Linked DNA regions of Homo sapiens: all the other regions are reported to be linked to region 2. The links are microRNA targets in miRTarBase. Many come from high-throughput screens and were not tested one by one. Region 2 holds a microRNA gene; each other region holds the end of a gene's coding sequence.
Evidence for each region. Region 2 holds the annotated microRNA hsa-miR-4673 (UCCAGGCAGGAGCCGGACUGGA, at 1,354-1,375, shown strand). A microRNA usually pairs through its seed, bases 2 to 8, with sites in the 3' UTR of a target mRNA and lowers its output. Matches are read on the target gene's strand: a 7mer-m8 pairs with bases 2 to 8, a 7mer-A1 pairs with bases 2 to 7 and ends in A, and an 8mer does both.

Region 1: the mRNA of TMEM248 is a reported target of hsa-miR-4673. Seed matches in the 3' UTR shown: 7mer-A1 at 2,464-2,470, 8mer at 230-237 and 7mer-A1 at 84-90.
Region 3: the mRNA of SH3PXD2B is a reported target of hsa-miR-4673. Seed matches in the 3' UTR shown: 8mer at 2,475-2,482, 7mer-A1 at 2,202-2,208, 7mer-A1 at 1,476-1,482 and 7mer-m8 at 192-198.
Region 4: the mRNA of CFAP73 is a reported target of hsa-miR-4673. Seed matches in the 3' UTR shown: 7mer-m8 at 1,245-1,251.
Region 5: miRTarBase lists ELOB as a target of hsa-miR-4673. Seed matches in the 3' UTR shown: 7mer-m8 at 2,611-2,617.
Region 6: miRTarBase lists ARK2C as a target of hsa-miR-4673. Seed matches in the 3' UTR shown: 7mer-A1 at 2,698-2,704.
Region 7: miRTarBase lists RANGAP1 as a target of hsa-miR-4673. Seed matches in the 3' UTR shown: 7mer-A1 at 2,444-2,450, 7mer-m8 at 2,016-2,022 and 7mer-m8 at 1,294-1,300.

Annotation. Positions count from the first base shown.
Region 1 is chr7:66,954,797-66,958,061 of GRCh38, reverse strand. It overlaps TMEM248 (transmembrane protein 248), which reads right to left. Exons shown (of 7, transcript NM_017994.5): 7 at 1-2,560. The coding sequence ends at 2,540. Among named protein-coding and RNA genes, the nearest start is that of TMEM248, 35 kb to the right of the region's middle.
Region 2 is chr9:136,517,714-136,520,978 of GRCh38, reverse strand. MIR4673 (microRNA 4673) reads left to right here and starts at 1,353; the gene lies at 1,353-1,411. NOTCH1 (notch receptor 1) reads left to right here. Exons shown (of 34, transcript NM_017617.5): 5 at 1,414-1,536; 6 at 2,155-2,388; 7 at 2,687-2,842; 8 at 3,042-3,227. All of the region lies in intron 1 of LOC124902310 (a long non-coding RNA gene), which reads right to left.
Region 3 is chr5:172,335,546-172,338,810 of GRCh38, forward strand. It overlaps SH3PXD2B (SH3 and PX domains 2B), which reads right to left. Exons shown (of 13, transcript NM_001017995.3): 13 at 1-3,265. The coding sequence ends at 2,824. Among named protein-coding and RNA genes, the nearest start is that of UBTD2, 53 kb to the left of the region's middle. RefSeq lists an enhancer at 352-1,213.
Region 4 is chr12:113,157,069-113,160,333 of GRCh38, reverse strand. It overlaps CFAP73 (cilia and flagella associated protein 73), which reads right to left. Exons shown (of 8, transcript NM_001144872.3): 7 at 2,644-2,732; 8 at 1,058-1,633. The coding sequence ends at 2,655. DDX54 (DEAD-box helicase 54) reads left to right here. Exons shown (of 20, transcript NM_024072.4): 20 at 1,225-3,161. The coding sequence ends at 1,457. It overlaps MIR7106 (microRNA 7106), which reads left to right and starts at 1,157; the gene lies at 1,157-1,221.
Region 5 is chr16:2,769,326-2,772,542 of GRCh38, forward strand. It overlaps ELOB (elongin B), which reads right to left. Exons shown (of 4, transcript NM_007108.4): 4 at 2,089-2,777. The coding sequence ends at 2,665. SRRM2 (serine/arginine repetitive matrix 2) reads left to right here. Exons shown (of 15, transcript NM_016333.4): 13 at 1,027-1,140; 14 at 1,279-1,392; 15 at 1,533-2,087. The coding sequence ends at 1,542. Among named protein-coding and RNA genes, the nearest start is that of ELOB, 6.3 kb to the right of the region's middle. RefSeq lists enhancers at 1-389, 390-1,093, 1,094-1,796, 1,220-1,359.
Region 6 is chr18:46,456,383-46,459,642 of GRCh38, forward strand. ARK2C (arkadia (RNF111) C-terminal like ring finger ubiquitin ligase 2C) reads left to right here. Exons shown (of 8, transcript NM_152470.3): 8 at 137-3,260. The coding sequence ends at 254. Among named protein-coding and RNA genes, the nearest start is that of ARK2C, 120 kb to the left of the region's middle. RefSeq lists an enhancer at 1,752-2,541.
Region 7 is chr22:41,244,129-41,247,393 of GRCh38, forward strand. It overlaps RANGAP1 (Ran GTPase activating protein 1), which reads right to left. Exons shown (of 16, transcript NM_002883.4): 16 at 651-2,544. The coding sequence ends at 2,475. Among named protein-coding and RNA genes, the nearest start is that of CHADL, 4.8 kb to the left of the region's middle.

The sequences.
Region 1 (3,265 bases), not on the chromosome of region 2:
AGCCTGGGAAGTGCCCAGATGGTGACAGGTCCCCTGGGCTTCCCGAGACTCGCTGGAGTCTCTTCAGGTCCTAGGCCTCTTCGTCCAGGCCCCCAGGCCTCCTCTCTCCCCTCAGCCTTCCTTTATAAACCTGATTGACTCTGCGTTTCTGTAAGATCTTTAAGAATTACTTGCTTAGGTGAATGTTGGATTTTAAAGTGTGTGTCCTGGCCTTGGGACAAGCCATCTGTCCAGGCATTTTTGGCACTTCCTTTCCTCACATCTAACAGTGTTGCCCCTCCCCTAGCTACAGATTCCAGCCACTCTCTGTCATTAAAACAAGGGTAACTAATATTAGCAACAAGCTGGATTGAACGAACCAGTGAAATTGGCTTTTTCACTGTTTTTCTCCTTTGATACCACTCTGCCAGCTATAAATCTATCCCTATAACTCTGCTTCATTGGGATTTTATTAATTCAATAGCAGCTTAATCTAAAATCTGATGGTCCTAATGATAATGACGTTTCTAGAGCCAAGCCACATGGCTCTTTCTCAATCTTGTCTCTTAAGGGTCTCAAAGTCTCTAAGGAGAAAACTAAATTAACAAGTTAGCCATGCATCGTGTAAGCAACTCGTATCATACATAGAAACTGGATAGACAAGTACGATTACTGCACTTGAAACATACTAAAAGGAAAAAGAAAAATACTAACATATCAAGTTACTATGGTGATTATTTTAACAATCTTCAATAAAAGCACGCAACTGTTTTCTATTCAAAAATGCCTGGGATAAAATGTTCTAGGCCAATGTATTTCAGAATGCAGGAACTAATCCTAATTTAAAACAGACTACAAACCTAGAGTTAAGGAAAGGAAGCACTCATGGTCATGTCCAATGTTTTCATTGCCCTTCTGTTATAACACTGCCTGGGAGAACACAGAAGTTATTAGTGACAATGAGCTATTAAGGCAAAAAGTTATTTTAAAAAAACAGTAAGAATACAAGAAAGGACTGGAAAAGATAATGTATGGTTTTGCTTAAATGAATAAGGATTAGAAAGAAAAAGAAACAGGGACTAGACAATCAAACAAAATGGTGTAAGAGGGCCGAGAGCAGTGGCTGACGCCTGGAATCCCAGGATTTTGGGAGGCCGAGGTGAGAGGATCATTTGAAGCTAGGAGTTCCAGACCAGCCTGGGCAACAGAGGGAGACTCTGTCTCTACAAAAAAATTTTAAAATTAGCCAGGCGCGCTGGCACACGCCTGTAGTCCCAGCTACTCAGGAGGCTAAAGTGGGAGGATTGCTTGAGCCCAGGAGTTGGAGGCTGCACTGAGCTAAGCTCCAGCCTGAGGGACAGAGCAAGACCCTGCCTCCCCCCTCCAAAAAAAAAGAAAAAGAAAAAAAGTTATAAGAAAAATGCTTTCAGTTTTCCCTGATAAATGGCAAATCAGAATTGCATTCCTTCAAATTTTGCAGGCATCGTTTTCGTAATTTTACTGATCTACTAGTTGCCATTTCCTTCTGAAGATATGTTAGTAGCATGAAAATAAAAGCAAAACAAAAGGGAGAAAATCCACCCACTCTTTAAAAAAGAAAGAAGAAATCCTTTCCTATTAGATAGAATCATTATTCTTTCTTTCCATACTGTCATCTGCATTCCAGAAAGCAGAAGAGCAAACAGTCACTCTAACTCTAGAGCCATTTACATTTTGAAGCCCTTTTGAGTGAAGAGGCGCTTTAACTTTGATAACAGAAGGGAGGGACAAGAGTGGACGACAAGACAGTAGAACCTCCTATGCCAGCTCCAACAAGACCAGGTTCCTGGTCATCCATGTGGAAAATGAAACTTAGATCTTTACCATGTATGTGACTTAAATATTTAACTTTTTAGTCAGGATAAAAGCACAAGTCTGTCCTAACTAGAGTAGTATTAAAATGTGACTATTTTATTTTTTCTTCATAAAGGAAAACAAAAAACAAAAAAACAAAAACAAAACAAAAAAAACTTAAGGTATGTTTCCTGCAAGCAAAATGGAGAAAAAGGTATTATTGTTGTTACTATGATTATTAAGCCACAAACACATAAAATCCACAAAATGGATTGGTGGCTTTGGAAATGCAATACCGTATCAAAGGTGCAGACTGTTTCAAATGTTCTCTACATATTGGGCTGAAACAAGAACCAAACCAAACTTCAACCCCATCAGCGACGCAATGCTCCTGTGACCTTGGTGAAAACATCGTCGTGACCAGCTAGATCCAGGAATCCTTCTCTAGAGACACGTGGAAACGTCCCATCAGGTAGGTCCTCAAGTCCAAGGTGGGGTTGAAGGGCTCTGGCTGTACCCAGGGCAAAGCACGTGCATTATTGGACCAATTTCTGAATAGATTTTTATAAATATGTACAAATCAGTTACAGGCACTTGAAATGTCTTTGGCTGGAATAACCCAACATCGCAAGATAATGTATTCACAGAGCATCCAGGCCCAGGCTGGGTTCAGCAGGCAAGGATTATGGTTCTCTCAGTCTCTCTCAAAAAACAAGGAGCTGTGGAATTAGGCTTCAGCCAAAGCCACCTGGAAGACAGCAAGCCAGGGAAACCAGTCAAAAAAGGGAAGCCTAGGTAACTCAGCCCCTACCCAAAGACCAGGATGCCACACTAATTGCACATATCAACCAGACAGTGAAGTTACTAAATCCCTAAAAAGAAAATCTCACCTAGGAAGAAATTACTAGAAATCTCAAAGTCTCCTGCAAGACGCGGCCCATCTGGAACCACTGTGCGGAGACAGAATTAACTGGTTTTTGTTTTTTTGAGACACGGTCTCGCTCTGTTGTCCAGGCTGGAGTGCAGTGGTGCAATCGTAGGTTACTGCAGCTTCCAACTTCTGGGCTCAAGCAATTCTCCTTCCTCAACCTCCCCAGTAGCTGGGAATACAGGCATGCACCATTACATCTGGCTAATTTTTTAACTGTTAGTAGAGAAGGGTTCTCACTATGTTGCCCAGGCTGGTCTTGAACTCGTGGGCTCAAGTGATCCTTCTGCCTCAGCCTCCTAAAAGTCCTGGGATTACAGGTCCACCTAGCTGAGGTAACTGTCTTTAAACCTTGATAAGCATTCTGTTAGAAGACTTCTTATGCTGATGGAACTACAGAGGAGGCAGCTACCCAGAGTCAGTAGTGCTCCAGTGGAGACTTGAGAACAACTGCCAAGTCACTCCCTTTAATAGCAACAGAGGCTTGGGTATATGATTAAAAATCCAACAACATAATTTAGGTTG
Region 2 (3,265 bases):
AGCACTGTCTCCTCGTGGGGTCGCTGGCCGAGGCTACGTCGCAGAGGGTCCAGCTGGGGTCCACGGGGCTCTCGCTGGCTTCCCGCCCTCTCCCCCACTGTGTGCCTCAGCCAGTGCTTTGCAGGGCAGCCCTGGGGTCGCAGGCCCAGCCAGGGGCCCCATCTGCCTCGGAGCCGGGGTGCAGGGCCCCACACATGAGTGGGACCGGGACTCAGGCTCCAGGCTCTGAATTTTTTTTTTTTTTTTGAGACAGGTCTCTGTCACTCAGGCTGGAGTACAGTGACGTGCCCTCAGCTCACTGCAGCCTTGACCTCCCAGGCTAAAGCGATCCTTCTGCCTCAGCCCCTCAAGTAGCTTGGGACCACAGGCCGGCGCCACCACGCTTTGCTACTTCTTGTATTTTTTTTTGTAGAGACGGGGTTTCGCCATGTTGTCCAGGCTGGTCTTGAACTCCTGGGCGCAAGCGATCCACCCACTTCAGCCTCCCAAAGTGCCGGGATTCCAGGCGTGAGCCACCGCGCCAGGGCTGGGGTCTGGTTTTGGGTGCTCCCCAAGCTGATTTGCATTTTGGATTTTGGTTGTCTCTGGCTGCCTGCTTTTGCTCCGGTCCAGCAGACAGACAGAACGGACGGGGTGGTGGCGGTGGGGCAATGTCTCAGAGGGAGGGGCCGAGCAGGTGGGAGCTCCAAGGGCAACGGGGGTTCAAAGGCATCTCGGGAGGGCGGCAATTAGTAACCGGCTGCAGGTTTGGCTGTTGCCGAACGCGCCTTTCTGGGTTGATCATTGAACCAGCGGGAGTTGAGTGGATTAATAGCTAACTGGCTGCCTTGGAGGCCTGGGTGGGGCCATACCTCGGGGGAGGGGGCCCTGGCAGCCTGTGGAGGAGGAGGGGGAGGAGGAGGTGGGCACCAGAGCTCTGCCCCAGGGAGGATGGGCCATCTGAATCTCTGCAGCTTCCCTGGGGCTGCGAGGGGCCCACCCTGCCCCAGCCAGCAGCCTGCTGGCCCCATGTCCCCCTGCTGCTCAGAGCCCAGGCCCCAGTGTCAGCCCCTGAAGATGGGGTGTGCGGCCCCCCTGTGGAGACATTGTAGGGAGCTCTGAGCATGCAGGCGGCACCCAGGTGCAGGAGCTGCCGGAACCTCTTAAAAGAGACCCAAGGGTTTTTGTGACAGAATCTTCTGGAACCCTGTGTTCCTGAGTCCCTGTTTAGCCAGTCCTGTCCAAAATGATTCTTTCAAGCAGGGCGTGTCCCTCTGGGCACTGGAGTGAGGCAGGGGACGGGCACAGACCCCGGGGGCCCCAGGGCAGGGCCGTGGAGGCCAGGCTCTTGTGTCCAGAGCAGTGTGTCGGGGGTCCAGGCAGGAGCCGGACTGGACCTCAGGGAAGAGGCTGACCCGGCCCCTCTTGCGGCAGGCTTCACCGGCCAGAACTGTGAGGAAAATATCGACGATTGTCCAGGAAACAACTGCAAGAACGGGGGTGCCTGTGTGGACGGCGTGAACACCTACAACTGCCGCTGCCCGCCAGAGTGGACAGGCGCGTATACGGGTCGCCGCAGGGCGGGGTAGCCGGGGCGGGGCTGCTACCCACTTACTAAACTGCACTCACAGGCATAGCGGGGAGCAGCCGAGACCCTGTCCCAGGCCAGGCAGACTAGGGTTGGCCGAGAAGGACAACATGATGGGGGCCCCACTTCCCGTGGCCAGGGTCTGGTGCCCCTCACCTCGGGGGTCAGCACAGACAGGGCCCTGGTTGGTCTGTGTGGGCCGTTTGCAACCTGGCTCCAGGCAGCCCCTGTGCCCAGTGGGGTGTCCTGGCATTGAGGGCCTTCAGCACCCCACTCAGGCCACGCTTCCTGGGCCAGTCACAGGGATGCCTGGATGAACAGACAGGCCCTGTGTTCGGGAATTACCCTCTGGTGGGGTGACGGGCAAAGGTGCACCCCGACGCAGCAGTGTCCACAGAGCACAAAGAGGAGGCAAGACTCCATGGTGCTGGGCCTGCAGAGGAAGGAGTGATTTAGGCTGGCGGTGGGTGGAGGAGTCAGCCCAGGAAGGCTTCCTGGAGGGGGCGGCATTGCCACCCTGCGTCTTAGGGGACAGGGAGCTCAGGGAGTGGCAGCTGCCCGGGGCCGACAGCTCCTGTTCCCTGCAGGTCAGTACTGTACCGAGGATGTGGACGAGTGCCAGCTGATGCCAAATGCCTGCCAGAACGGCGGGACCTGCCACAACACCCACGGTGGCTACAACTGCGTGTGTGTCAACGGCTGGACTGGTGAGGACTGCAGCGAGAACATTGATGACTGTGCCAGCGCCGCCTGCTTCCACGGCGCCACCTGCCATGACCGTGTGGCCTCCTTCTACTGCGAGTGTCCCCATGGCCGCACAGGTGAGTGCCTTGAGGCCCAGGTGGGCGCAGGGGGCTCACATGGGCCAGGCCTGAGCTGTGTGACCTCACCCAGGGACTGTGGCCCTCCTGCACCCAGGATAACCTGAAAGGGCCTTTCTGGTCAGGGAGGCCGGTGGTCGCTGTGAGTCCCCCGGAACGTCCCAAGTGTCACGGGATGCCCGACGGGGTCACGGCGGGCAGCTCCTCCTGGGGTGTCAGTGGGGTTGGACCCCAGCCGTGGGTGGTGTGCCATGCCTGGCCCAGGGGCCGTGCCCACTGACCGCCGCTGCCTGCCCAGGTCTGCTGTGCCACCTCAACGACGCATGCATCAGCAACCCCTGTAACGAGGGCTCCAACTGCGACACCAACCCTGTCAATGGCAAGGCCATCTGCACCTGCCCCTCGGGGTACACGGGCCCGGCCTGCAGCCAGGACGTGGATGAGTGCTCGCTGGGTAGGTGCCAGCACAGGGGGTGCGGCCAGGTGGGGGTGGCAGCCTGGCCCCAGAACCGATGAGAAGTCGATTCTGGCTTCAGGGGGTGCCCAGTTAGATGGGGGATGGGACCCTGCCAGTCCGATGGGGGTGGTGTGCAGTGAGGTGTTGCAGGGGCCAGGGTGCCTGGAGCAGCCTCTCACCCGTGTGCCCTCGCCAGGTGCCAACCCCTGCGAGCATGCGGGCAAGTGCATCAACACGCTGGGCTCCTTCGAGTGCCAGTGTCTGCAGGGCTACACGGGCCCCCGATGCGAGATCGACGTCAACGAGTGCGTCTCGAACCCGTGCCAGAACGACGCCACCTGCCTGGACCAGATTGGGGAGTTCCAGTGCATCTGCATGCCCGGTGCGTCGGCCGGGGCCAGGGCGGGAAACCGAGTCGAG
Region 3 (3,265 bases), not on the chromosome of region 2:
CTCACAGGCTTGCCGTAAGGATTAAAGGAGCGTGTGTGTTTAGGCACTGGTCACCAGCCCGGTGCTTGGCACCATTGTCACGATGGGCCTGGACACTTTCTAGAGCCATGACTCCAGGGGAGTTCTGCATATGCGCCATCAATCGCTCACAGAATAGCGACCACAGTCCTGGATGGGGTAAATCTAAGTCCCCAGGCAAGGACAGCTAGGAGAGTGACTGGCCACCCTGACCCACCCACTGCCTGGGGAAGTGTCTACCATTGTAGGAAAAGGAGCTGGATACAGACGTCCTCAGGCCATAGATATGACTCAAGGAGAGAACAGTGAACAGAGAGGACTGTGGCTTCAGTACCCGCGGGTCATGTCAGAATAATCATCATCATCATAGCAAAAGAGAATGGCAGATTCTTTCATTTGCAGGAAAACTTTCTGCCTAGAGGAAGGCAGGGCAAGTCTGCTCCTACCCAGCTGACCCCCGGGAGGAAGGAATGAAGCAAGAGAGAAACTCCTTCAGTGAAGTCAGCAGACAGGACTCAAAGCTCTTCCAGCCAGGGATGGAGCCACACACATCCCAGTCTACTCAGCACCTAGCACAGAGTAGACACTCACAAAGTATCTGAAAGCGTCGCTGAAAGGCAAAGAGCAAATCAGAAAAAAACATGTGTTTTGTCTTTTGAAATGCAGTCAAATCTCACATAGCTTCACAAAAGTTGTTTAAACCAAAGTGGATCAAGAACTCAGGAAAACTGCCATGGGGCCTCCTCTCAAGGGAGGGGACCCTCAAGCGGTGGCGGCCCTTCCCCACCTCCCTTCTTCCCCTGGCTGCCATCTGCCCCCAACGCTCTGGGCACAGGGCCAAGTGGCAAGTGGGCCCTGCCCAAGCCTCTCTGGGAAATGGGATTTGCAGGCCGACTGGACGAAGGCACTAAAGATGCTACAGGTGATCAGAGGAAGCTCCTCACGCAGAAGCAGCCAGCACCCACGTGATAGGGGGTGGAGCTGGGAGGCGCGGCAGAAGAGGGCTGTTCAAGCAAAACTTTGGCACTGCAGGTAGACACTGAGCATCCCCCCAAAAAACTGGCTTTGTGGGTCCAAAAGTATCTCGCCTGATGAACACTGTGAACTGGAGATCTCTGGGGCAGGGCAGGGTGGGGAGGGGCGGGGCAGGGCAGGGCAGGGCTGCCTCGGTCGGGTAGAATGGGAAGGGGTTCTGCTCTGCTCTCTTACTCTGGGCTGGGAGCTAGAAATGCTGGGTCCTGATTTTGCTTCTGCAGTGATTTAGTCATGCCTCTCCAGACCTCAGTTTGACAGATGACCACATCTGCCCTGGGTTTCTTCAAGGGAGAAAACAGATTTGGCAGTGCGTGAAAAAAGAAAAAAACATTACAAATGCCGGAGAGGCACAGGAAGCAGCTCTGCCTGGCCCTTGGTTACCTGCCTCCCTATGGGACCGCTGCATGCTATGCTCAGAGCCCTCCAGGCTGGCCCTCGAGGCCACCTCAGCTCCCGTTGCTCCATAAGCTCTATTCCCCAGGGGGCAACAGCTTAGAAGAGGGAACAGGGCTCTGTGTCAACCACCAGGACCCTGGCATTCTCCTGTCATGGAGATGCAGCTGTTGAGTCCAGGGCAGCCTTTGGTATAGGCTGCTGTGGGCTGGAGGGATGGTGGGTGTGGGAGCAGCCACGAATGCCCCCTCACCCCCCTCACAATGAAGCCACTTGGCCACCACTTAGCCAGCTTCTATCTCTTCCCTGCCTGGTTTGTCTTTTACAGAGGGGAGGGCACAGGCACTGAAGTCAGGCAGGCCTGGACTCAAATCCTCTTCCCTCTTCCTCCTGGCTGGTGTGTCCTTGGGCACATGGAGCGTGAATTTCCTCATCTATAAAGGGAGGTTGTGAGGGTCAAAGCATGAATGCAAAGCGCCAAGTACAGTGTTTGGCACCCACGAGGCACTCAGCAAAGGGGTGCTCACAAGGGCACGACTTGTGAATGGGCCTCTTATTCAAACAAACTTTGAGATTCTTGCTTTAGGTAGGCAAAAATGAAATGCTCCAAGTTGGGGTGGGAACTCTCATTGAAAAGCCCTGGAGGGACCGGAGCCTGCAGCAGCAAAGCGCAGCATACGCGGGGCTGGAACCACCCTTCAGGGCTGACCACGGTCCCAAGATAGAAGGTGGGAGGCAGGGCGGCTGAGCGGATCTCCAGGCCCACTCCTGGGGGAGCCGCATCCAGTGGAACCTCAGAGGCCCACGGGCCTGAGGCTTTGGGGAAGGGGACACTTTCCCTGGAACTGGTAATGGAATGCATTTCTTCAGGATGAAGTTCCTTCTGGTAGCAGGCAATTTAGGAGGAGTGAATAAAGCCACTGGGCTTTTAGAAACATGAAGAAGTTGGAGCAAAAGTCATCATGGACTGGGTTGGCTGCCCCTTACTGTGCCATGTCCAAGCCATGAGAGACCCTTGCTGGAGTTTCTCCAGGCAATGGGATCCAGTCCTGGAGGTCTTGGAGAGTCTTGGTCCCACTGCTGGGTGGCAATGCCATTGGCCAGGAGGAGTTCTCTTAAGGCAGGGATGCTGACATGGACAGAAAGCAAAGGCTGTGGGTTCTGAGCCTCCAGTGATGCTGTGATAGGAGGGATCAGGCCCAGGGGCGCCCGAGGTGTCCGAAACTCACTCTCCACCCATGGGAGGCAAGAAGTCACAGTACCCCAGAGTCTGTCTGCCTTGGAAGCTGCGTGGAGAATGATAAATTAAGAGGCGTATTAAATACGTGGGTAAAGCCAGCAAGGACCAGCGGGCCCTCTAGGCAGAAAGGGAGTCGGCTACGGCTTCTTTCTGAGATAGTTGGAAGGAATCCACCCTTCCCAGGAAGGGGCTCCGCTCAGGACCTGGCAGAACCACCAGCCACTGCTGTTCTTCTCCCGGACTTCAAACACTGTCCCTTCCTGGAAGCTGCTGGTGTCTTTGTCTCCTTCAAAGTCGGCCACGGCCACATACAAAGAGTCCTTCAGGCCGTCGGCATTGGGGACAGAGGCTGCAGCTGCTTTCTCCCTGTTTTCTCCAATCTTGCCGGTCCCCCATGGCCCCAGGCTGCCTTTGCCTCGCGTGTCATCCTGGCCCCCCAAAGAGTTGGAGAGAAAAGGTTTGGCTTTTGGAGGGACGAGGAGAGCACGGCCTGGGGTGGGAGCTGCCCTGCTTTCGTGGCCTTCACACTGTGGACCTCTGACCTCTGGGAGCGGCCTGGATGACGAAGAGGTTTTCTTT
Region 4 (3,265 bases), not on the chromosome of region 2:
TGGGACCATGTCTTGGGTCTCTCTCAGATGGCCTTAGCCCCTGCTTGTGTCCCTCCACCTCCTGGGGCTGGTCACTGCCTCCCCTGGGTGTCTCTGTGAGCCTGCGTGCATTTGCCTGGGCCTGTTCTCTGTGGCTCCTCCCTCTCCAGCTCTCCCATCTGTGGGAGTGTCTCCTTGTCAGCATGGCTGGGTGGGGACCACCCACACCTCACTTCTCAGCCTGTTTTTACCTAGGTGAAACAGCAGCTTCTGCTGCGAGCATTGCCGTGCAGTGGGCGTGCAGGGGCTGGGGAGACGGGGGCGACCTGTGGGCTTTGGGAAAAAGCAGCTGTTCTTCCTTTGCTGTCCTCATTGGAGGTGATAGGTCCTGCGAGGCACCCTGGCTCCATTGGAGACAGCTGGGACCACCTTAATGGTCATCCCTCTAGGAGCCCTGGGGAGGCTGCTGTTATGAATGGGGAAGAGGAGGAGGAGGACACAGGGCTTAGTGGGAGCCAGGGAGGGTGGTGCTTGCCTCCCGGAGAACTAGAAGAATGGACTACCTGATGCCCACCTGTGGGGCTGGGGCAGGGTCGCTGACCTCTGCTGCTGCTGCTGCTTTGCTGTGTGATCTCAGATAAGTCCCTCTCCCTCTCTGGCCTTCTTTGATTCCTCTCCCACCTAAAGGAAGGTTCATCTACACTCTTTTTTCATCTAACAAGCCTAGAGCATGGTGTCCATGGAGACAGAGGCTGAGGTCTGTATCGGTTACTATGGGGGGCCTCAGAGCCTGGCGTGCCGTAGGTGTGCTGTGGAGACATACACTCCTTGGTTGGAGAATTTTTAATAGTAACAGTCATGCCCAAAAGGCTCCCACTATGGGACAGGCCTTGAAATTCTGACCACTTTACACCATGGAAATGCATTTACTCTTCACCCATGAGGGAGGTGCTGTGATTTATAATTCATAGATGGGGAAACTGAGGCACAGAGCCGTTAACTTCTTGCCCACGGTCCAAGAGGTCACAGCTGGGATTTGAACCCCAGCGGTTCTGGCCCCGTGTTATTGACCACTCCATGAGGCTGCCTAAAACTTTATTAGCCACCTACTGTGTACAGACACTGGGCCACAGCAATAAGCACAGAACAGGAGTAGGGGCAGGGGAGGAGTCTGCAAGCTTCTGGGAGGAGGGGATCTTGGGAGTGATCCCAACAGCTGAGCTCCCTGAATCCCTGTCCCAGCAGGTGCATCCCGGCCCCACGCCCCAGGCACCCCTGCAGGCCGAGTCCGCCCGGAACTCAAGACCAAGCAGCAGATCCTGAAGCAGCGGCGCCGGGCCCAGAAGCTGCACTTCCTGCAGCGTGGTGGCCTCAAGCAGCTCTCTGCCCGCAACCGCCGCCGCGTCCAGGAGCTGCAGCAGGGCGCCTTCGGCCGGGGTGCCCGCTCCAAGAAGGGCAAGATGCGGAAGAGGATGTGAGGACCAGGACCCAGCCCCGTGGCTCCTTGATTGGCCTTAGGGTGGGCATCAGCAGACGTTCCCGTGCACCACTGTGTGCCTGGCCCTGTGCTGGGCACTGGGGGCACTCCCTGCAGGAGCCATCATCTGTGAAAAGGAGCACTGTATGGCCACAGAAGGGCAGCAGCTGCGTCAGCCTAAGACAGAGACATTTGAACAGGGCCTTGAAGGGTGTGCAGGAGTTCGCCAGCAAAGCCAGGCAGGCCAAGACTTGAGTTGGCAACTCAGCTGCTGCTGCTTCCATGTGTTCTGGGTTCAGAGGTCATGGCTGCACCGGTCAGAGCCCTGAGTGCCTCAGGGTTTGGCAATGGAATTTTTAATGTAATAAATCTTTATTGAGCACTGCTGGTGGCCAGGAGTGCGGTCTACTTGGGGAACTGGAATGGAGAGACCCAGGTACTAAAATCCCAGCTAACGTGGCAGAGGAGTTGCGGGTCTCCTGAGGGTGAGTTCTGCTGCCTTGTCCATTTAGCGATGAGGAAAGTGAAGCTCAGAGCACAAACCAGGTGCCAGAGGCGGGAGTTGGTCCCCCTTCCTCCCACTGGACATGGTTGCAGCTGGGAGTGGGCTGGGGGAGGGGAACAGGATGCCCAGCCCAGGGGGCAAGGACACAGCTGCTCCCCTCTGGCTATGAAGAGGTTAACGCGGCCCCTCCACACCTGGAGGTCAGAACCTGGCCTGTCCTCTGTCTTCTTGCCACCCACCCCCTGTTTGAGGTTCTGAGAAGGTCAAGGGCAGCCCCAGCAGCTGGATTCTCAGGCTGGGCCCCTCACCTGGCAGAGTCCATAGTGGAGGGGGCCTTGGTGATCTCTCATCTAGCATGGACCCTGTTCTGAGACCTGACAAAGAGTTTTTTTTCATGCCCCAACCACCCTGGCAGGGAGGGCCTGGTCTGATCTCATTTTAGAGGCAGTTGCCCCACACATAGCCCCTTGACCTTCCCATCACCTCCTCATCAGGGCCTGCATTTATGGAGTGCTTGCTATGTGCCCCTCATGGCAGGCCCACAGCACTCTGAACAGGCACAGCCCTCCCATCTTCCCAATGAGGAAACGGATTCAGGAAGAGCCACTCAGTCCACACCCCATTGGAAATGTGGGCCCTCCTATCTCAGGGTCTCTCAGGGGTTCCCTCTCCCGCTGCTCACCTGTGTCAGGGCTAGGAGGCAGGGGCTGCAGGCTCAGCCTGACCCAGGCCGGCCAGCATGGCAGAGAGGTCCTGCATGAACAGCTTCACCTGGGGGGGCCCAGCACGAAGTCACATCCCAGCCCCAGAGTCACTGTCCAGCCCCCACCCCTCAACACGCGGGGGAGGCCGAAAGGTAGGGCGGGGACTGGAGATCCCCTCATTAAAAGAACAGTGATGATGGTGGTTCCCAGAGGTGGTGACTGAGATCCTAAACCGTTCTGGGTTTTGAAAGCCTCAGGCCAACCTTCCCAACTGCTGCGTGAGCAGACACCTTCACAGCTTCCTCGCTGCTGTCACCTGCACTATCCAATTAGTATTTTCATTTACATCAATCAGCTTTATTTTCTTGTAACTGGATCAGTCATATTCATTGGTTTGTGACCTACTCTTATCTCCGTGGGTGGCTCTCCTTTTGTTTTAATTAACTTCTTTATGAATATGAACTTAATAAATACCATGGATCCATTGTAAAAACTAGAACTTGAGGGTGAACTTACAACCATCTGTGGGCTCCCCCTCATATTCATCACCGTATCAACAGCTGAGAAGGAAACTTTTTATCTCCACCAAAAATGGAAAAA
Region 5 (3,217 bases), not on the chromosome of region 2:
TGACTTGTCCAGAGAAGGGGCCCTGGGGTGTGAGCTCCCCGCTGGGTGTCTCACGTGGCCTTGGGCATCTGGTTGTGGGGGAGGAGGCACTTGCTCTCCTCTCCCCATGCTCGTTGCACCCTGTTCTGGCGAAGGGCTGCGCCATCCACAGCGGCGCTCAGGCCAGGACCAGGGGGTCCTTGGTTTCTTCCTCTCCCTCCCTCAACACATAGCCTGTTCCCAGGGTTCTAGCTTTGTCTCCCTGTTGCTACTGCCAGGGCTCTGGTCTGGCCACCATCATCTTCTCCCGACTCTGTCCACAGCCTCCTCCCTGTCTCCCCGTCTCCACGCCATTCTCTTCCACATGTAGCCAGAGGGACCTTTCTAAAACGCACATCTGGCTACTTCCCTCCACTCCACAAATCCTTCGGGACGCCCTGTGGCCTGCAGGACAAAGCCCCACCTCTGCGGGAGTGGCGTGTGAGGCTCTTCACCAACGGGCCTTGCCCGCCCTGTGTTCTCCTCCTGCCCGCCCCCACACATGCCCTGTGCTCCAGCCACACCCAGCGCCTTGCAGTCTAAGGAGAGCCCATGCCTTTGGACATGCTGTTCCTTCTGCCTGGAATTTCCTTGTCCGCCTGGTGAACTCCTCGTTCTGCAAGACTCCGCTCAAAACAGCACCTTCGAGAAGACTGCCCTGCCCCTTCCCTGCCTTGCCCCATGTCCCCCTCCCTTGGGTCCCCAGAGCCACGCACATCCAGCCCTGCTTCCCACACACGGGGCCGTGCGTGCCTTTCTTCACCACTGAGCTCCTTCAAGGGCAGGGACTGTCTTTATCTTTGCATCCCCCGCTGCACCCTGTGCCTGCCCACTGGGCACTCGGTGGATGGTGTGCGGGCGGATGGGTGAGTGAGCGGACAAAGGTGGGTCTGAGGCTGGCCCTGTGTGGTGTGAGGTTTGGTGGTCAGGACCTGGGCGGGTGGTCCTGAGTGCTGGCCCGTGTGCTTGAAAGGGTGTGGTGCTATTGGGTCCTACTGTGTTCCCCAGGTCCCGCAGCCCCCGGAAGCCAATAGACTCCCTCAGGGACTCTCGGTCCCTCAGCTACTCGCCTGTGGAGCGTCGCCGTCCCTCGCCCCAGCCCTCACCACGGGACCAGCAGAGGTAAGGCCAACTGCAGGTGTCAGCACCCAGCCTGTCTGGCCGCCACTGCTTTCTACAAAGAAGAAAGCTTTGCGGTTGTGGCTATGTGGTGCCTGAGGTGGTGCCACCCTGTGGCCTGATGTCTGTCCTGTGTTGCAGCAGCAGCAGTGAGCGGGGTTCCCGGAGAGGCCAGCGTGGGGACAGCCGCTCCCCCAGCCACAAGCGCAGGAGGGAGACACCTAGCCCTCGGCCCATGAGACACCGCTCCTCCAGGTGCGTGTCCTGGAAGGCTGATGCCCCCTTCCGGGAGCCAGTTGTGGTGGTGGGTGGCGGCCCCATTTTGGGAGTGGCCCAGAAACTGGCCTTGAGGGCTGGGGTGGGAACTCCCTGTTGACCCATATCTTCTCTTGCAGGTCTCCATAAATTGTCTTTGGGGGATTCCACCACACCCAATGCTCTGGAGCCACAAGGAGTGTCCCTTCTTCCCCAGCAGAGCCGTGGGAGGGTCCTTGTCTGCTCTCCTTTGAACCTTGGCAGCCCTTGGATGGAGGGCTCCCTTTCCCTCCCCTTTTTTTTTTCTTTGTTCCTGTGAAATGTTAATCTCCGTGAGTTCTTCCTGGTTCATGTGTTCTGGGGGGTTTGGGGTGGGAGGGAATGCAGATGGGAGTTGGGGGAGGGGAGGATACAGTTCAGGATACCCCAGCCTGGAGTCAGGGCCAGGGAGGCATGGCCCCACTTGTATCCAGAAGTTCCCAGGGGTGATTGTGATGGTGGTTGGGACTGGAGGTTGTATAAGGTGTTCTTGGAAGGAAGGGGCAGGAGTTGGAATTAGTTGGTCCCTACTGTCCCCCATGAGGTTGTGAACCCCTCCCCCCAACTTTTCATGTTTCTTAAAGGCATTTTGGTTTTTTAAAATCTGTACAGCAAGAGCAACTTTTTCTGTCAAATAAAAATGAGAAATGCAGGAACTGGGTCTGTAGACTGTTTATTAAAGGTGTGTTAAGGGGGCAGCCACTTCCCTCCGTGATTACAGCCCCCAGCGTGGGTGGACCTGTGTGGGTCCGTCTTGGGGTTCCCTCGTTGAACATGCTGTCAAACCAGGACACTGGCTCCAGCTTGTGTTTCTGCTCTTGGCCATCGTCTGGGAGTGGACATGCAGGCTATGGGGGTGGGGGGCACTTAGAAGGAGAAAGGCCTAAAACTGGAATCTCTTGTCCCTGAGGCTGGCTCTGGTCTTTGTGTCTCTCCCAGTCCTTCCCTTTCCTCCCCCTGGCGTGGTTGGTGTGGCTGGCTAGCTGCTAACAATGGCTTGGGTCTCAGGGCAACCCAGGTCCCCATGGTGCCTTTAAGCAGCAGGCTGGGCCAAGTTCTCAGCCAGGGTCTCAGGATCTGGGAGACAGGACAGCACAGGAACTGCCAAGCACAAGCCCCAAAAGGAGCCCACAGGGAGTGGGACCCATCCCAGGGAGGGGCGGGAAAAAGAGGCAGCAACCAGGCAGACTCCCAAATCTCTTTTATTGGGGGAAATGGGCCTCTTGGGGGTCCTCACTGCACGGCTTGTTCATTGGCACTGCTTCCCGAGTCCTGGGGCTTCATCACATCGGGCAGCTCTGGCGGGCTGGAAAACGGCTCGATGCACAGGGCCTCAAAGGTGTCATCTGTGGAGGAAGCAGCAGAGCTGCAGGGGGGTATTCCAGCTCTTGCCCCAGCTGGGGCCTTGGTGTTCACGTGTGATCATCTGCAGCTTTGGGGATCTCCATGCGAACGCCCCTCCACACGGCTGTAGTCTCCACAGCGCTGACCTCCCTGTTCCAGCTACCCCCGTGGCCCCACGGTAATGTCTCCTACCCCTGTGGGCCCAACCTGAAGGTCCCCAGCCCTTCCCACTGACCATGCTGGGGCCCCTTTCCTCATCTTCCATGTCCACTAGTGAGTCTGAGGGCTCACCATCTGCAGCCAGCATCACCCTTCACCCAGAATATATCTCCTTGTTCCCTTCACACACTTTGGGAGGCCGAGACGGGCAGATCATGAGGTCAGGAGGTCAAGACCATCCTGGCTAGCACGGTGAAACCCCATCTCTACTAAAAATACAAAA
Region 6 (3,260 bases), not on the chromosome of region 2:
CTTCATGGTTTCCCATCTCAGCCACAGCCTCCCTCCATAGCCGGGCAGTTCCCCAGGAGTCCTAGGTGTGTGTCCCTGCTCCGCTCAGTGTCCCTCAGCTCTTGCCGGGCCTCTGACTCTCCCTCCTCTCTTCCAGACGCCTACCCTGTATGCATCTCTTTCACCAACTGTGCGTGGACCAGTGGCTCGCCATGAGCAAGAAATGCCCCATCTGCCGAGTGGACATTGAGACACAACTGGGAGCCGACAGCTGAGGGAGGAATTAGCCAGTGGACACCCCATTTCCTTCACCAGGTCCCCCCACGGCCATAGCCCTTGCAGCCAAACTTTGCCTTCTGAGCCATTTGACGTAGAGGAAAAGCCTGCAAGCACATTTTGTGGAAAGAGGAGTTGGTGGTATCGGTGTCGAGGGAGAGGAGGGGGTTGGGGAGGACCCACCTCTCCAGAATGGCGACTGTCCCCATCCGCCTGGCTGAGCAGGAGAGAGGGAGCTGGCGGTGCCCAGCGCAAGGGCGGGAAGGAGGGGCCCAGGCTGCGGAGAACCCAGGTGGGATCCTGAAGGCACTAGCTGACAGACGGGCCCCTCAATCCTGTCCTCTGAAGGATTGTATATATACCTCTCGACCACGTAGGAACCATGTAGGGGTCTCTAGCTATTTCTGTGGATGGCAGCCGGAGCATGTTAGCTTAAGAAAAATGTTGTGTGTGGTGCTCTAGTCATCTTGTGGTGGACATGTCGCTATTACCGAATTCGCACCAAATATTTCTCATTGAGTTTCTTGTTTTGGTGCCTGACCGAACCAACGACAGCCCCAATCTTCCCGTCTTTATGAGAGAAAAGGAAAAAGGAATCAAAGGTGGAAGAAAAAAAAAGCCAAATTCTGTTTACGGTGAAAAAGGATTTTGTTTTTCACCCAATTTGGGAGGCGGGAGGGGGGGGTTCTCGTTTTATTTTTGTTTTTGTTTTTACCTTGGCTTTTGTTTTTCTCATGTTTACAGTGCACGGAGTGTGGAAGGGGGTCTAGGAGAGGGAGAGCTGGAAAAGGAGCTGATGGGGTCTTATCCTGGCCTCTGAGGGTTCAGCGGAGGTGAGGAAGGCAGCAGAGCTCCAGCAGGTGAAGGGAGAGTTCATCTAGGCGGGGCTCCCCAGGCCCAGGGCTCAACTTCATGGCCCCAGCTATATCCCCCCAGTTCCACACTAAACCAGGGAGGGCTCGGCCCTCAGCTACTGGTACCCAATGTGTTCCTGGGAGCCGAGAGACCCATGGTCACTCCAACTCCTTCCTTTAGGCTGTGCTCTTGCCTGTCACAAAGAGGCAACGTAGCCACTGCCTCCCTATGCAAAAAATTAACCAGATGATGCAGATAAGACAGCATAGGTGATGGCTGCTTGGTCTTGGCCACAGTGCTCTCAGCCAGCACTAAGGGCTGAGGTCAATACCGCAGACCTTGGGGAGGAAGCTGAGCATCCCCCGGGATGTCTCCAGTCCTGACACAGTCCCTCAGAGATGGCCCTGGCTCTGAGGTCACATCAGCTAGGTTTGGGAGGCCCCTCAGCTTGGTTTGGGAGTGCCCGTGTTCCTGGTCTCTGGCTGCTTCTCTGACTCTTTGATAACCTTGGGCAAGTCCCTTTCTTTCTCTGTGCCTCAGTTTCCTTCTCCTTTGAGGGGGGAGAGAGAACAGTGCAGCCCCATTTCCGGTCCTGCTACCTCACCTAGATGTTGTGAGGATTCATATTCTCTGTCCAGCGTGTTCTATGCTCTCTTCTGAGAACCTTGTGGGGTGTCGGGATGGGGGTGCTGGGAGACACAGACCTGATACAGTATGTCTTTCTGCACCACCTCACAATTTTCCTGAACCCCAAAGGGAGCAGAGAGATAAGAGGACAGAAGAATGGAGATGGGAAAATCCACCAAATTCCAACCCAAACCCAACTTTCTTTCTCCCTATGTGGAAGACACCAGATTAGCTGGAATTCTGCCACCTTCCTTTGTGCCCCACCCCCCACTGTTCCCTCATTTGCACTGCTCTGTAAGCCTCCCCCTCACCTCCATTCATAACCCAGTCTCAATGCCCTCGTATCAATAAGACCGGGGTAAGGGGGACAGGATACTTGTCACATATTTGAAGAAATTCCATACAGTGAAGGAAATTTGAGTCTGTATTGCTGCTACAAGGGTAAAACCAGGACCAATGGGTAAAAGTAACAGGCGGGCAGATTTTGGCTTGAGGAAGAGCTTCTAGCACGACTGGTTCATGCGGGAATAGCTGCTCTGGCCACCTGCAGGCAGAAAGTGGGGGAAGTGGCTCCTGGCAGGAGATTTCTCCCAGCACTAATATCCTGGTGTTCTATAAAATCTTTATTGAGTGCCTACCGGTGCAGGCGCTGGGAGAGACAATAGCTTTGAGGAGCTCACAATCTAGCTGAGGAGACAAGACACATCCAATGCTGCAAAAATGGTGAATAACCTGATTCAGGGTTAGCAGCAATGAGTATCACAGCGTCCAACTCAGTAGCTCCAGTGTATGAAAATGTCTCCAGGGCTAAAGGCTGGAGATCTCACCAGTGGGGAAAGTACATCTGAGTCAGGATTTTGGGGGAAAGCTAGTTACTGATAGCCACAGGAAGTTGAGACTTCTGCCCCATTCTCTCCAATGGCTGGGTGAAAACCAAGAATTCATCGGAAGATGGCTTTGGCCTGGAGGTAGCTAGGGTGGTCTAGGAAGCTCACTCCTCTCTTAGTCTCAGTCTTTCATTCTTTCTGCTGAGACTGGCCTGAAAGGCTGGCAAGTGGGAGGGAGTCAGTGGGGAGGCCAGGATAGAACTAGAGCTGGTGTCCCAGGTTCCAGTCTGGGCTCTTCACTGACAAAGTGGGCAACACTAGAAACTTCCCTTTGTCTCTCTGGGCCTTAGTTTCCTCAGTTACAACCTAAGGAGGTTGGATTGGATGCTTGCTAATTTCCTTCTGACACTCACACTCCCTAACATCAACACATCTTCAAGGCGGCAGAGCTGTGCGCCCACCCAGCTATTGAAAAGGACTTTCTGTGGGCACACACTCTGTTTCAGACTGGGCTGGGGGCACACGTGCTGGGTGAGACAGTGGGCCCTCGTCCCCTCCCCCCTCCCAATTCTCTGCCCCAGGCTAATATTAGGGACTGGGGAGGGGACCACCAGAGGGGAGAGGGAAGCTGCTTACTTTGGGGGTAGACCCTGAAGCCCCTCCTCCTTCCCCCACAGATGGGGACAGGAGGTGATG
Region 7 (3,265 bases), not on the chromosome of region 2:
CTGGGCAACATGAGACCCTGTTTGAAAAAAATTAAAGTTATCCCCCCCACCCATATATATATACAGAGAGAGTTTAGGCAATTATTTTCTCCCTGTCTGTAAGTTGCCTTTGTACTCCTTAATGAGTATTTTGATAAACAGAAACCTGTTCTCACTGCTACATCATTTCCATTGTGTGAACATCCCACGATAATGGCAAAGGAGGTTAAATACAGCTTAATTTATTCATCTTTTCCTCACTCCTAAGGCCTTGAAGATACTCACTTACACTATCTCCTACAAGCTCTCTCTCTCTTTTTTGAGACAGGGTCTCGCTGTCAGTCATGCTGGAGTGCAGTGGCACGATCACGGCTTGCTGCAGCATCCACTTCTTGGGCTCAGGTGATCCTCCCACCTCAGGTTCCCAAGTAGCTGAGACTACAGGCATGCATCACCACACCCAGCTCATTTTTGTATTTTTAGTAGAGACAGGGTTTTGCCATGTTGGCCAGGCCAGTCTTGAATTCCTGGGCTCAAGTGATCTGCCCGCCTCGTCCTCCCAAAGTGCTAGGATTACTACAGGCGTGAGCCACCACACCCGGGTGAAGCTCTATAGTTTTGCTTAATTTTTAAAACATTAACTGAGGTAAAATATATTAATACATGAAATCTATCATTTTAACCATTTTTATGTGTACAATTCAGTGCATTAAGTACATTCACAATGTTATGCAACCATCACCACTCTCCATTTCCAGAACATCTTCATCATCCCAGAGAATCTGTTTGCAGCCTCACTCCCTATTCCACCCTTCCCCTAGCCCTGGCAACCTCTACCTTCTTGTCTCTGAATTTGCTTATTCTAGATGCCTCATCTAAATGGAATCATATTTGTCCTTTTGTGTCTGGCTTATTTCATTTAACATGTTTTCAAAGTTCATCCACGTTGTAGCTGGCATCAGAACTTAATGCCAGCCCCACACCCACCCCCTACCGTATCAACTCACACAGAAGACAGGGGACAGGGCCAGCAGTATCCTCTGCCACCTGGTCACCTACGTGGCCGACTGCCAATGAGAAAATATTGCCCTCTAAGAAACCTTGGAGGGACTTCTTGGAGGCCGTTTGTGGGGGACATGGGCTCCCAAAGCACATACATGGTGTAGGGTAGGAGGTAAGGAAGGTTGGCTGGGCTGTCCTCACATATGTGGCAGTGGAGCAAAGGATCCCAAGGGAGGTGGCTTCCATAGTGAAGGAGCAACGCAGAAGCCAAGCGAGCTGCAGCCCAAAGGCAGGGTGCTGGGTGAGGTGTGGCCAGGCAGGAAAATGGGCCCCCACTCAGGACTGCCACTTCCCAGGTAGTGGCCTGAGGCCGAGGCCGGGCCCTTCTGCAGGGCTGACTGCCCCACAGACTGCTGCGGGGCCGCATGCTCTGCCGAGGTGGGACTCCACGTACAACGGCCCCCGAGACTATCCCGCTTTCAGTGAGAGTTTCTGAGTCTCTGAAGCTGCCACACGACTTTATTTGTGAAGCCCCCGGGCACAGCCCAGACACACACAGAGCACAAAGGGGAAAGCATGGGGCAGTCACGGGTGCTCAGGGAGGTCATACAGCATCTGCCCAGTCCAGACCCTACCGCTCCCCTGCCCCAGGAGGTCCTTTAAGAGCAGCGTCCAGATGCAGCTCGGACATTGGGGACCCTGCCTCTCCCTCCCCAGACTGGAGAACAGCTTTGGGTTGTCAACACTCCCCCTCCAGCCAGGCCAGTCACAGACGACATCTCAGCAGCCAGGAGAAGGCCCACTAGGTCCGGGGCCAGCGCAGTCCCAGCAGCTCCTGCTCCTGGACAATCTGGTGTCTGCCTGTCCACACGGTGTGGGGCCCAGGGTTGCCCTCTGCCAACAACCCCACGATCCGACCCCCACAGTCCCACCCATGGCATTCTCTGCTCTTCAGGCTGAGCGGTCAGCACAGTGGTATGGATGGTAGGGGTGACAGCTGCCGCAGGACCAGGGCTTGGTGACGAGAAGCAGCCCCAGGCAGGGCAGGAAACAACCCAATCACAACACAGAGGGGAAGGACAGCACGCGGGCAACTCCCTGGGTTCTGGCTCCGCCAGGGAGCCGGGCCGGAAGGCAGGTGGGTGGGGACGGCCATCAGGGCCCAGGCGGAGATCAGCAGAGCGCCCTCAGGTGGAGGTGAGTTTAATGGCGGAGCAGCTCACAGCCCTTTCCCCTGGGGGCCAACTCCCCACAACAGAGCAGGGCTGGGCCAGCAGAAGACGTTAAAACCCAAATCCCGACAGGAGGCACAGACCTGCACATGCGCCACACCCACACACATACTCAGGGGACTGACAGGACACATGGGACACAGACCCGCCCTGCCTGTGGCCAGAGTCCTGTCCAAGGCAATGGCGTAGGCTGCGCCTCAGTTCATCCGAGTCCCTCCCCAGCTCACTGGTCCAGGCCAAGGGATGGGAGAGGCTTTGAGTCTAGACCTTGTACAGCGTCTGCAGCAGACTGTGGCGGGCGAAGGAGCAGGATTCCAGGGCGCTGTTGGGCCTGCGGGGAAAGAGGGGTCAGCAGGTCGGTGGATGCCTCTTGGCCTGTTTTCCAAGTGTGGGGGCCATTTTGGTGCCAGACTCATTTTTGTTAATTTGCACAACGACTCAGCAAGAGAGACATTAGCCCTCTGCCTTCTGCACACCGTGGGTGGGGATGGGAGGTGCGAGAGGCTCAGAGAGCCAGGCACCCAACGCCACACAGCCCAGAGCTGGCCAGAATGAAGGCCCCCTCAGCCAGGCTCTCCAAGGGCCCTTCCAGCAGACATAGGCCAGGGAATCCTTACTGGCTGCCAGTGGCCACATAGGACTGGCCCACTAGAGTCCAATCTGGATCATAAGTAAATGGCTAGCCATTGTTTTTTTGGTTGCTTTTTTTCTTTTTCTTTTTCTTTTTTTTTTGAGACGGAGTCTCGCTCTGTCACCCAGGCTGGAGTGCAGTGGTGCGATCTCGGCTCACTGCAAGCTCCGCCTCCCGAGTTCACGCCATTCTCCTGCCTCAGCCTCCCGAGTAGCTGGGACTACAGACGCCCACCACCATGCCCAGCTAATTTTTTGTATTTTTAGTAGAGACAGGGTTTCACCATGTTAGCCAGGATGGTCTTGATCTCCTGACCTCGTGATCCTCCCACCTCGGCCTCCCAAAGTGCTGGGATTATAGGCGTGAGCCACCGCGCCAGGCTGGTTGTTTTTTTCTTGAGACAGGGCCTCTCTTTGTTGCC